Regions from separate parts of the Homo sapiens genome. Here region 2 is linked to region 1. The links come from fine-mapping of genetic effects on gene expression. A gene starts in region 1. The other region holds a variant in brackets. All regions are shown on one strand. Distances are from middle to middle.

What was found. PIP is the estimated chance that this variant, and not a neighbour inherited with it, causes the effect.
Region 2: its variant is the best candidate, but not a certain one, in a credible set for the expression of SHB in sun-exposed skin (GTEx, PIP 0.56).

What each region holds. Positions count from the first base shown.
Region 1 is chr9:38,066,758-38,072,268 of GRCh38, forward strand. SHB (SH2 domain containing adaptor protein B) reads right to left here and starts at 2,470. Exons shown (of 6, transcript NM_003028.3): 1 at 1,172-2,470. The coding sequence starts at 1,888. It overlaps LOC105376039 (a long non-coding RNA gene), which reads right to left. Exons shown (of 4, transcript XR_007061483.1): 3 at 5,284-5,369; 4 at 4,670-4,794. RefSeq lists an enhancer at 907-1,710 and silencers at 1,601-1,650, 2,071-2,880.
Region 2 is chr9:38,020,244-38,025,243 of GRCh38, forward strand. The region is part of intron 1 of SHB (SH2 domain containing adaptor protein B); the gene reads right to left. Among named protein-coding and RNA genes, the nearest start is that of SHB, 46 kb to the right of the region's middle. RefSeq lists an enhancer at 1,223-1,732. The variant C/A (reference allele first, on the strand shown) is at 2,957.

The sequences.
Region 1 (5,511 bases):
CAAAAAAGATCCCTTTCCAAGCACCAGATGGCAGGTAAGAGCCTGTCTCCCTCCTGTCTGGACATCCAGTCCTAAAAGGAACTCAGACTCTTAATCAGTCTCCCCCAGCCCAGGCCTGGGCAAAGGTTTACCTTTGGGGGAAGAAGGTGGGGAGAACAACAGCCACGCACCAGGGCGCTGAGAAGGAAGGAGCTCTCCCACCGGGCCTCAGATTTAATCAAAACACTGCCTTCCACCAGAAGACAGAACAAGTATTATTTTATGGGGGAAGGGAGGGCTTCACAGGAGTGTGAAGGGGGAGGAGGGGACCTAGTCTGGCTGTAATTAACTCGTCTGCTTCAAAGGGAGGAATCTAGGTGGCCTAATGCGTTAGGAAGGGGGCTGTCACAAAGTCCCCCCGTGTTCCTGGGACCTTATGGGGTAGGGGTGAGGTCAGGAAGGAAGCAGGTGAGGATAGGAGGGGTGGGGTCTCCTTCCAGCCGGGCCTGATAGGCTGACCCCCTCCCGCGCGCAGCGGGAGGAACTGACGGGTTCGATGAGGAGCGCTCTTGCAGGCAGCGCATTTCAACCGGAAAAGCACGCGTGGAGGTTCCCGGAGCAGCTCCGGTACCAGGCAGCCCGGATTTGGAAACCTAGAGCTGGGGGTGGGGCAGGGCAGGGCCGGGCAGGGCAGCCGCGAGAGATTTACATATACACGCTGGAGACAGCCGGTCCGGATCTGCCACCAAGAAAGCTGTGTAATATTGGGCGAGTCCCTTCCTTGCTCTGGACCTCAGTTTCCCACCTACAGCGTGAGCGGAGGGTGGAGGCTGGGATAAGGGGTGTCAGGAGTCAAAGCTCTTCGAAGTCCTAGACAGCTCTGACTCTGACTTTACTCCTTGGCAGCCAGAAGGACTGACTGGGTCCGTCTTCCTGGGGCAAGGCTGGGCCGGGCGCTCTCGCTCAGAGGGGACGTTCTGGAAGCAGCGGCGAAAGAGGTGGGGTCAGGAGGCCGCCGGTCCCAGGAAAAGGGCGCGGGAGGAGGCAGAAGCGGGAAGCAGCACGCCAGCCCCGACCCAGGGTCCTAGGCCGAAGCTGAAGTAGAGACTCAACACCAGAGCGGCGGGTGCCTCGGTTTCCCCGTGCGCACCGTGGCTCTGGAACCTCGGGAAGAGGCCAAGGGGCACCTTACCTTGTCCTTCTTGCCGGCCCCGCTCTCCTCCGCGGCTGAGGCGGCGCACTTGTTGAGCAGTTTCTTGCCTCCGCAGGCCGTCGGGCTCCAGGTGCGGCCGCCCGCGCAGGCGCCCCCCAGGGGGTCCCCGGCCCCACCGCCCGCGGCGCTCTCCACTTTGATGAGGCGGTGCTTGGGGGAGATGTAGCGCACCTCGGCCGGCGTGGCGGGCCGCCGCTCGCTGCTGCTGCGGTAGAGATGCGGAGAGCCGGAGGACGAGGACGAGGACGCGGCGGCCCCCGCGCCCGAGGAGGCGCAGCAACAGCCCGCGGCGCCCGACGCGGACGAGGCCGAGAAGGCGCGCTGGACCCCGCCTGGCTCCCCGCTGCCGCCGCAGTAGTCCAGGCGGCACATGGCGCGCAGTTTGCGCAGCGACGAGCCAGGCCCGTTGTAGGGGTCCTCGAAGTCTCGCTCCTTCTGCGCGCGGTAGGCGCGGATGAGGTCGCTGGTGCTGCCGCTGTCGTCGGGCAGCGAGCCCGAAGAGGCTGAGAAGCAGGAGGCGGTGGCCGGACCGCAGGACGCCGAGGCGGCGGAGGAGGCCTGCGGCACGGCCTGGGGGGGCTGCGAAGGCCGCTCGCCTCGGCGCCGCTGCTCGCGGTAGTCTGGCCGCGGCGGCTGCGGGGGGCTCTTGGTCTTGCTGTTGCCCAAGCTGAAGTACTTGTTTAGCCACTTGGCCATGGCGAGAGGCCGCCTAGGGCCGCGGCGCGGGAGCCCGGTCCGCCGCCGCGGCCATTCGGGGGGCAGCGCTGCGGCGCAGGTCCCTCGGCGCCCCGGCCCCGGCGGGGGGCGTCCGGGGCGCCCGCTCCCGACGCCAAGTTCAAGTTCTTGCCGCCGCCGCCTCCTGCCGGCAGCTCTCTGGCTCCGGCGGCTGCAACACCTCCCTCCGCCTAGCGCCGCCCAAGCTAGGAATCTCGCGCCCCTCGTGGGCGCGTCTCATGGGGTCCCGGCCCACGCCCGGGGGAGAGCGGAAGGTCCGAGCGCTCCACGCCGCGGACCCTTTGGCCGTACGCCCCTCGCCGTGGATCGCGCTCCTGCCCCGTCGGAGCCGCAGCCTCCGCCTTGGCCGGGATCCGCGGCTGCCGCGGGAACTTCTCGGCGTCCTCGGCTCCCTTCTTCCTTCCTGCGAGCGCTGGGGAGAGCTCGGCCCCGCAGCGGAGGAGAATGCGGCCGGGAGAGACAGCGAGCGACGGAGGAAGGCAGCCGGCGCCCGCCGGAGCCCGCGCGCCCGTGCCCGTCCCGGCGGCGCCTGTCGCTGCCACTGCCGCCGCCTCCCGAGCCGCCGCGTGTGTGACACTCAGGCCGCCAGAGCCCGCCCCGCGCCGCCGCCCCGCCCCCCCGGAGCCCGCTCGCGCGCCCCGCCCCCCGCCCGCTCCCGCAGACCCAGCACCGCCCATCCCCGCGAGCCTGGCCCCGGGCCGCGGCCCAAGCCCCGCCCCCCTCGCGCCCGGGGCCGGGGTGGGCGCACCTCTCCGCTCCTGCACACGCCACCTCCCGCGGCTGCCCTGGCGCCAGCACCAGGGTCTTGCCCCAGGGCGCTGGGGTCCCGCCGCGCAGCCGGCTCCACCTAGCTTGCAGCTCGCCGCCGCCTCGGGCGAGAGGTTGCCTGGCGGAGCCTGCTACGCGCAGAGGCCAAACCTTTCCGCAGTCCCCCGGGACCCCGCGCGTTGTTCACTCCAGGGATCCCCCTGTCGGGGTTGAGGAGGGAGAGTGGATTAACACGGAACCTGTCTAGTTTACAGCGTGGCCCGTGTGGAGGAAATGCAGTGCCTAGTGCCCTTAGGGACAGAGTGGCTGTCCCTCTTCCTTAAAGGGACAGACTCCGGTTCAGCCCCGTGCGCCAGGTCTTCGGAGGAATCTTTATGCTAATGAGTGTATTAGCAGTCCAGATGACGGATGTGGTCGGGATAGGCGGTGGGAGCCGGGCCCAGCACCAATCCGAGAGCAAGGCTAGGGGAGGTCGGAATGTTTGCTTACCTTTTCACCTCTGAGGAAGTCGAGGCTTTAGCCCTGTTCGCTGCCAGCCGGCGGGGAGCAAGTTGTGGGAACATTTAATGCCTTATGTTGTAGGAGCTGGCAAGGATCCATTTAATACAGGACCTCGGCCGGGTGCGGTGTCTCACGCCTGTAATCCCAGCACTTTGGGAGGCCGAGGCGGGTGGATCACGAGGTCAGGAGTTTAATACCAGCCTGGCCAAGATGGTGAAACCCCGTCTCTACTAAAAATACAAAAATTAGCCGGGTGTGGTGGCGGGTACCTGTAATCCCAGCAGCTACTCGGAAGGCTGAGGCAGAGAATTGCTTGAACCTGGGAGGCAGAGGTTGCAGTGAGCCGAGATCACACCACTTCACTCCAGCCTGGGCGACAGAGGGAGATTCCGTCTCAAAAAATAAATACAGGACCTCATTTTACAGATGGAGAAACTGAGGCCCAGAGGAAAGTCACACAGGTGGACTTGGATGCCAGTTCCTAAGTCGGGTGGCACCATAATTATGTCTTTTCCAAGAGTCTCTTCTTTGCGATTTCAGATCATCCTTTGATTATTAACCAAAATTGAGGAAACAGTCCCAGGGAGTGGCCTGATTTGGTCAGTGTAACTTTTCCTGGGATCTGCACCCAGGGGAGGTGGCATGCTCCCTGTTGAGAGGGAAATGCTGCCTAAAGATGAAGTAGCTGCCACTAGGGCCTGGTGCTGCTTTGAATTTGCCTGGGCAACCCTCAAAATGTGACTTAACTCTAAGATGTGGGCACCTGAGAGCTGAGAAATTCTCTAAGAATGTTGATTTACTAAAACAATAGCCCAAATCAATAATCTGCATTTGCTGTCTGTCTGTTATAGATGTGCTTTGGGGGAGTCTGTTTTTCCCATATCCTGTAGTAACAGTGGGAACTGTGAGGGCAGACAGCAAGGCCAGGGGCTCTTTTGATCACATCATAGTTCTGGCCACGCTGGAAGTAGAGGTCAAACTCAGATTTCAATCTGAGACATTTGGACAGGGAAGGCCTGAGAGCTGTTACTGCTTCCTCTCTGTAACCCACCCAGACTCATGCCTGAGGCCACAGCACAGAAGTGATAGAAGCAGGACTTGAACTCGGTCTTATCCTGAAGCTGACCTCTGTCTGCTCAGCCATACACAGTGGTAAAGTGAAATTGACTTCAAATTTGTTATTCCAGAATCAAGCTATTTGCCCTTTCCCTCCTTGGTCAGACAAAACTGTCATCCTCTGTGGCCAGTTGAATTTTCCAAACCCACTATGTGACGTCTCACAGTCGCAGATACTATCACCAGCTACAGAGCATCTTCATTGCCTGAGATCTATTTACTTAGCATTTCACAGGAAATAATCTAAGGGATGTGTGTGTGTGTGTGTGTGTGTGTGTGTGTGAGAGAGAGAGAGAGAGAGAGAGAGAGAGAGAGAGAGATGTGATGTGTCTGGGGCATGCAGAGAGGACCCAGAAGTTGACCTGGCTAGGATGTTTATTTTGAATATACCTAGACTTAAGTATCTCCGTTACCCTTTAAATTGTTCCTCTGTCGCATTGGCACTTAATTATCTTGCACGTAAGGAGGCCCCAGTAGAAAACCTGAAAGGCAAGGACATCCTTGTTTTAAGCCCCACCTTTCATCCAACCACAAATCCTCCCCAGCTCCCTTCCTTCCCATTTCTACTTCTGGGCTCAGATCCTGGCAATAGGCCAGGCCACCTGAGACAAGAAAGTCCTCACCAGAATCTGGAAGCTTGCTCCCTGCATGTGTCTTGCACATGGAAAGGTTATCTCTGCCTTTTCCAAAAGTTCAGGAAGAGAAGTTATATTTCATAACTTATTTTTTCCATGTCACTTTCATCAGGCCGTAGAGTCGGATCCACTTTTCCATGTGATACCTCTGCTGGGGTATAATTTGCAAGCCAGAATTATTGTAATGCTATAGTATTATGCCAAGAACTTCCAGAGCACTTGTGTATCTGCTCAACCCTTAGACACTCTGTATATAATTAACCCTCCTCAACATCCCTGCAATCTGGTGTTATTCCCAGTTTACAGATGGGGTAGTTGGCCTAAGGTGGTATTTACCTCAAGCAGGCAAAAACCACATGGGTGTTTTCCTTTGGGAGCTTGTAGAGACGACCATCCAAGACTCAGAGTCCGAAATAATCATTCTGAAGGGAAATAGAAAAAGCTTCCTAAGGACTTTGCCAAACGGTTTAGGAAGACAAACACTTGTAGAAGTATTAGAGCATTATAGGAAGTAAGAGCTGGACAGACTCTCTTTTCAGAGATCCAGCCACTCCATTTTACAGA
Region 2 (5,000 bases), 47 kb before region 1:
TTTTGGTACAGTAGACAGAATGTTTCCCAAACTTGCCTGAAGACAGGAATGGCTTGGAACGCTTGTTAAGGAAACAGATTCCTAGCCCCAATAATCTGTATTTTAACAAGCAAGCCAGGTGATCCTTATCAGGAAAGCTTGGGAAACAATAAGCTAGAGCCAGCACCCTTCCCCACCAGTCTAGAGACAAGCCTCCAGATATTACTCTGGAATTGTACTTTTCCCAGGTATTGCTCAGCCCTGTTCGTTGAAGTGAAGCAAGAAGTTTGTGCTAACATGCAGCTCTTTTGTTTTCTTCCCTGGTGGTCAACTGGAGAAAAAGAGGACCCGACGTGCCATCTCCAGGATCTAAGACATGGAGGAAATGGTAACCCCTCTGCAATCATGTGGGCTGGCTCCAGATTGAGCAATTCGGCCTGTGCAGGGGGAGAGGGCTACCAAAATCTCACAAATCACCACTAAAGAACTTAGTCATGTAACCAAACACCACCTGTTCTCCAATAACCTATGAAAATAAAAATTTAAATAAATTTAAAAAAAGACTTCTGCCCTGTCACCACCCTGAAAGTGACGGGGTGGGGGGGTGGCCCAACAGGGATCCTAGCCCCGAGGATCTTGCAAGGCAAGGCTTTCTGTTTGAAACCCACAGCAGCTTTCAGGCCAAGGCCAATTTACTCTCAGCAAACTCGTTCTAGGAAGATCACCCGGCTACAGGAAGGGCTGGTGGCACTTCAGAAGAGGAGCCACTGCAGAAATGCAAAGGGAATCTCTGCTGAAATTGCTCAAACCTGCTAAAAAGAATGATGAGGCATGTCCGGGCTTAGTGGCTCACATCTGTAATCCCAGCATTTTGGGAGGCCGAGGCGGGCGGATTACCTGAGGTCAGCAGTTCGAGACCAGCCCGACCAACGTGGAGAAACCCAGTCTCTCCTAAAAACACAAAAAAATTAGCTGGGCCTGGTGGTGCATGCCTGTAATCCCAGCTACTTGGGAGGCTGAGGCAGGAGAATCACTTGAACCCGGGAGGTGGAGGTTGTGGTGAGCCGAGATCGCGCCATTGCACTCCAGCCTGGGCAGTAAGAGCGAAACTCTGTCTCAAAAAATAAAAATAAAATAAAAAAGAATGATGAGGCTGGGCACGGTGGCTCACACCTGTAGTCCCAGCACTTTGGGAGGCCGAGGTGGGCAGATAACCTGAGGTCAGATAACCCTGAGTTCAAGACCAAGCCTATCCAACATATAGTGAAACTCTGTCTCTATTAAAAAATACAAAAATTAGCTGGGCGTGGTGGTGCATGCCTGCAGTCCCAGCTACTTGGGAAGCTGAGGCAGAAGAATTGCTTGAACCCAGGAGGCGGAGGTTGCAGTTAGCTGAGATCGTGCCACTGCACTCCAGCCTGGGTGACACAGCGAGACTCTGTCTCAAAAGAAAAAAAAAAAAAGAATGATGAGAGAGGCAGACTGGCTGCTGTCTTCCAGGATCGAGTGGCCCACACTGTCCCTATTGCCCCATGGTCACCTTCATGTGCCCTGCTGTCTGTGGGACAGCACAGGCCTGTGTCACACACCACACTGCATTTTTAGACAGGTGAATAATGAGTGTTGAATTATGATGCAGTCAGCACGTCGCATCTGCACATCCGCCACCCTGCTAAGGCAAAGGAGAGAGTGTCTTGCTGGCTGAAGGGTCTCTGTGCTGCTCTCCTCTCCCCGGAAAGTGAGGGGGCAGCACCCCACAAGGCCCCTGATTCTTGCCAGGCCCTTGACTTCTGCTCTATGCCAAAGCAAACCGCATATGAATGCACTTGAGAATGTTCTCAATGCTCCCAGTCAGACCATTTTCTCACTGATTCACCTTTAAGACTATACATTAATTTCCTTAACAGTTTGGGGGCCACTAATCTCTTAGAGAATATGATCATTGATGAAGTTGTGCCTCCCCTCATCACATTACATACACCCACAGAGTGTTGTTGAGCACATCATAGGAAGGTCATGAAGCAAGCCCCCCTGTCTAGGGCCACAGTAATGAACAGTGAAAACAAGACACTCTCTCCTTTACCTTAGCAAGGCAGCAGGTGCACAGATGCGACGCGTCGACTGCATCGTAATTCAACACTCATTATTCACCTGGCTAAAAATGCGGTTTGGTGTGTGACACAGGCCTGTCATTGACTGTGAGAGGGTCACTCTGAGAGAATGATGGCCTGGGGCTCTTTGTCTTGGCTTGCCGGGAGCCCTGGCCCTCTCCCCAGCTCTGAGGGTCAGGAGGGCTCCTTGAAGGTGAGCAAATAGCATTTGGGGACGTGAGGCGGCAGCAGCAGCACAAGTGCCTCTGTCCCCGCTCCGAGGCCTGAAGTCCCAGTCCTCCTTTGGGACCCCCCCATAACACAGGCCCTAGCGGGCCTGATGTCCACAGGAAGGAGGCTCTGTTGCCATGCCAACAAAGATGACATTACAGAAACAGAGATTTGGGGGTCTGGAGAGGGCTTCAAATAATGATGAGGCCGCTCAGAGAAGCGGTAGTGGACAGATGTTCTGTGCAGACCCAGAAGCCATACAGACACAAGCCAGGTGATTCAGGAAAGACATCGACAGCCAGTAAAGGAACACGCTGCCTGGGAAAGGGAGCTCCTGCTGCGTGGGGTGTCCAAACAGAGGCTCTAAGATGGGCTTCTGCTTTGGGGGGAAGGTCAGCTGGCTGGATGCCACACTCAGTATCTTTCTAGTGCACATACAGTGCAAAGCCCAGACTCAACTTGGACGTAGAGGTCTGAGCTGCCCCAAGCAGAGCCCTGGCTTTAAGGACTGGCTAAGTGGGTTGCAGAACCCCTGCCATGGCGGAGGCAGGCAGCATTTCCAAAGTCCCAAGGCTGACCGGTGGCAGCTGGGCTGCAGCAGCTGCCCGAGGCTATGTAAATATACAGAAAGGCAGCTGGCAGTGCAGAAAGGATGC[C/A]GCCAGGCAGGGACAGTCCAGGCAAGTGGAGCTCTGGAACTGGTTCTGCTACACCCTTGCTGGGTAACTCCGTGCAACCTGTTTTCTCTGAGTTTCGGCAGGTCACCTGTGAAGTGGAGCAGGGTGGTTTGCCTTCTCAGCTTCACATAAACGTTGTAAGGAGCAAATAATCAGATGATCCAAGGATGTGTCAGTAATTTATAAAGAAAAGGCCGTGTCCTTGTTACAGAGCAGATGGCACCTCCAGGATGAAGGTAAGTGCGGTGAGGGGCAAAAGCACTTTCAGGCAGGGTCTCTGCCCACGAGAAGATGAAAATCTGGTAGGGAAGACAGGACAAAGACGTGAAAAGAAACCCCCGCCAAGGCCCCGGTGATTACCAGGGAAAATGGGTACAATTATGCATGACAACAGCTGTCCTATTTCTCAAACACAAAAAGGAAAATGTTTGTGAATGCCCTTTTTTCCCCCCTTTCCTGCTTTGGGTAAGATTCATGCCCTAGTTGGGGCACCTGGCAAAGTGGTGGAGAACCTCTCATAACTCTCGAGGCACTTCCGCCTGTGTGCTGGGAGACAGAAGTGTGACTTGCCTATGGCCAGCATCCAGGGCCCTGAGGGGTCCACAGCACCAGGCTGTTACACCACTCAGGGATATGGGACACCCATGCAGGTACACACACAAGCGCCCCCTACTCGCCTCTTCCTGTCCTCAGCTTTGACTATCATCATAGACCAACTCTCCTTATAGGCACGCCAATAAATCACTGCTGACATGGTAAGGAAATTAATTTAGGGAAGATTAATTAGCTACATTCATGCACTCAGCTGCAACTGCTGGAAATCAGACGGTGGGGAGGTTGGTTTTCCACTCCATTTAGGATTGGTTTGCTTTCTACCTTCTAAGATCTGGCTTGCCTCAAAGTTCAAAGCCCCCTCTTGCATCATGAAGGCCCCTGCCAAGTACTCCGCCCACATGCCTTCAGGGGCAGGGAGCTCATGATGTGGCAACACAGTCCTCTGGGACGGCCATCACCACTAAAGTGTCTTCCCTACACTGAGCTGAAATCTGTCTCCCAGCAGCCACTATCCGTTTTTCTACTGACCTAAGGTGTTCTGTCCTAAATGCTCCTTTACAGACCTGACAGTGACCTGCCCCACATGTCAGGAGGCTGGGAGTGTGGGGGGTTAAAGTGGTCACCACTGGTCTTTCCAGTCCTGCCCCTCCCACGGCCACAGCTGCTTGCCTAGACACCTGCAGGCTCCGACTTGTTAGGAAAAACACATTCCAAATTCCAGCCTCTGTCAGCTCCTCTCAAGCCTGCTTGCTCAGCCTCTCTCTCTCCGTCACACACACACACAGCCCACTGTCTTCCAGCTTCACCCCCTCAGAGTGAGCTGTGGGTCCTGGGTAGGAGGCTGCTGGGAACAGAGCCTGGCTCCACCCTCTGTTTACCCCAGAACCTCAAGTGGTAGAGACAGGCTTTTCAGCATCTCTCAAGTAGTGGGAGGTTCTATTTTGAACTCAGAAATACCTCAATCCTAGAATTTCTTAAGTGCTTTCAGCCAGGGACTATGGATAGAAAATCCAGCACATCCCTCCTGAGGACAAAAACACCCGGGGAGGGGTCTGCAGCCACTACTGAAAGGATCCCTGGGGGATGGTCTATTCTGCTAGATCTCAAACTCTTGTGTGTGCATGATTTCTGCAAAGGGAATCTTACACATGCACCACTGAAGAAAGTGACACCATGCATAGTTTGAAAACCATTTATCCACTGGGGACAGAAGGCTGTGAGTGGGGATGAACTTAGTAAAGTTAATGCCAGGACCAGGTAACCCAACCCATGTTTCCAAACTCCCAGGTCCACACGATTTCTTCAATGCCTATACCACTAACTTTCCTCTTAAAATCATCTTTAAAAATGTCAGAGTATAATCACCACAACTGCCTCACAGAAGAACCCCCCTACCTCCCCTTACAAGGACCAACCACCCATCGCTGTGGACAGCTCTCTGTGGGAGGTGGGCTCCGGGCCAGGCTGGGTC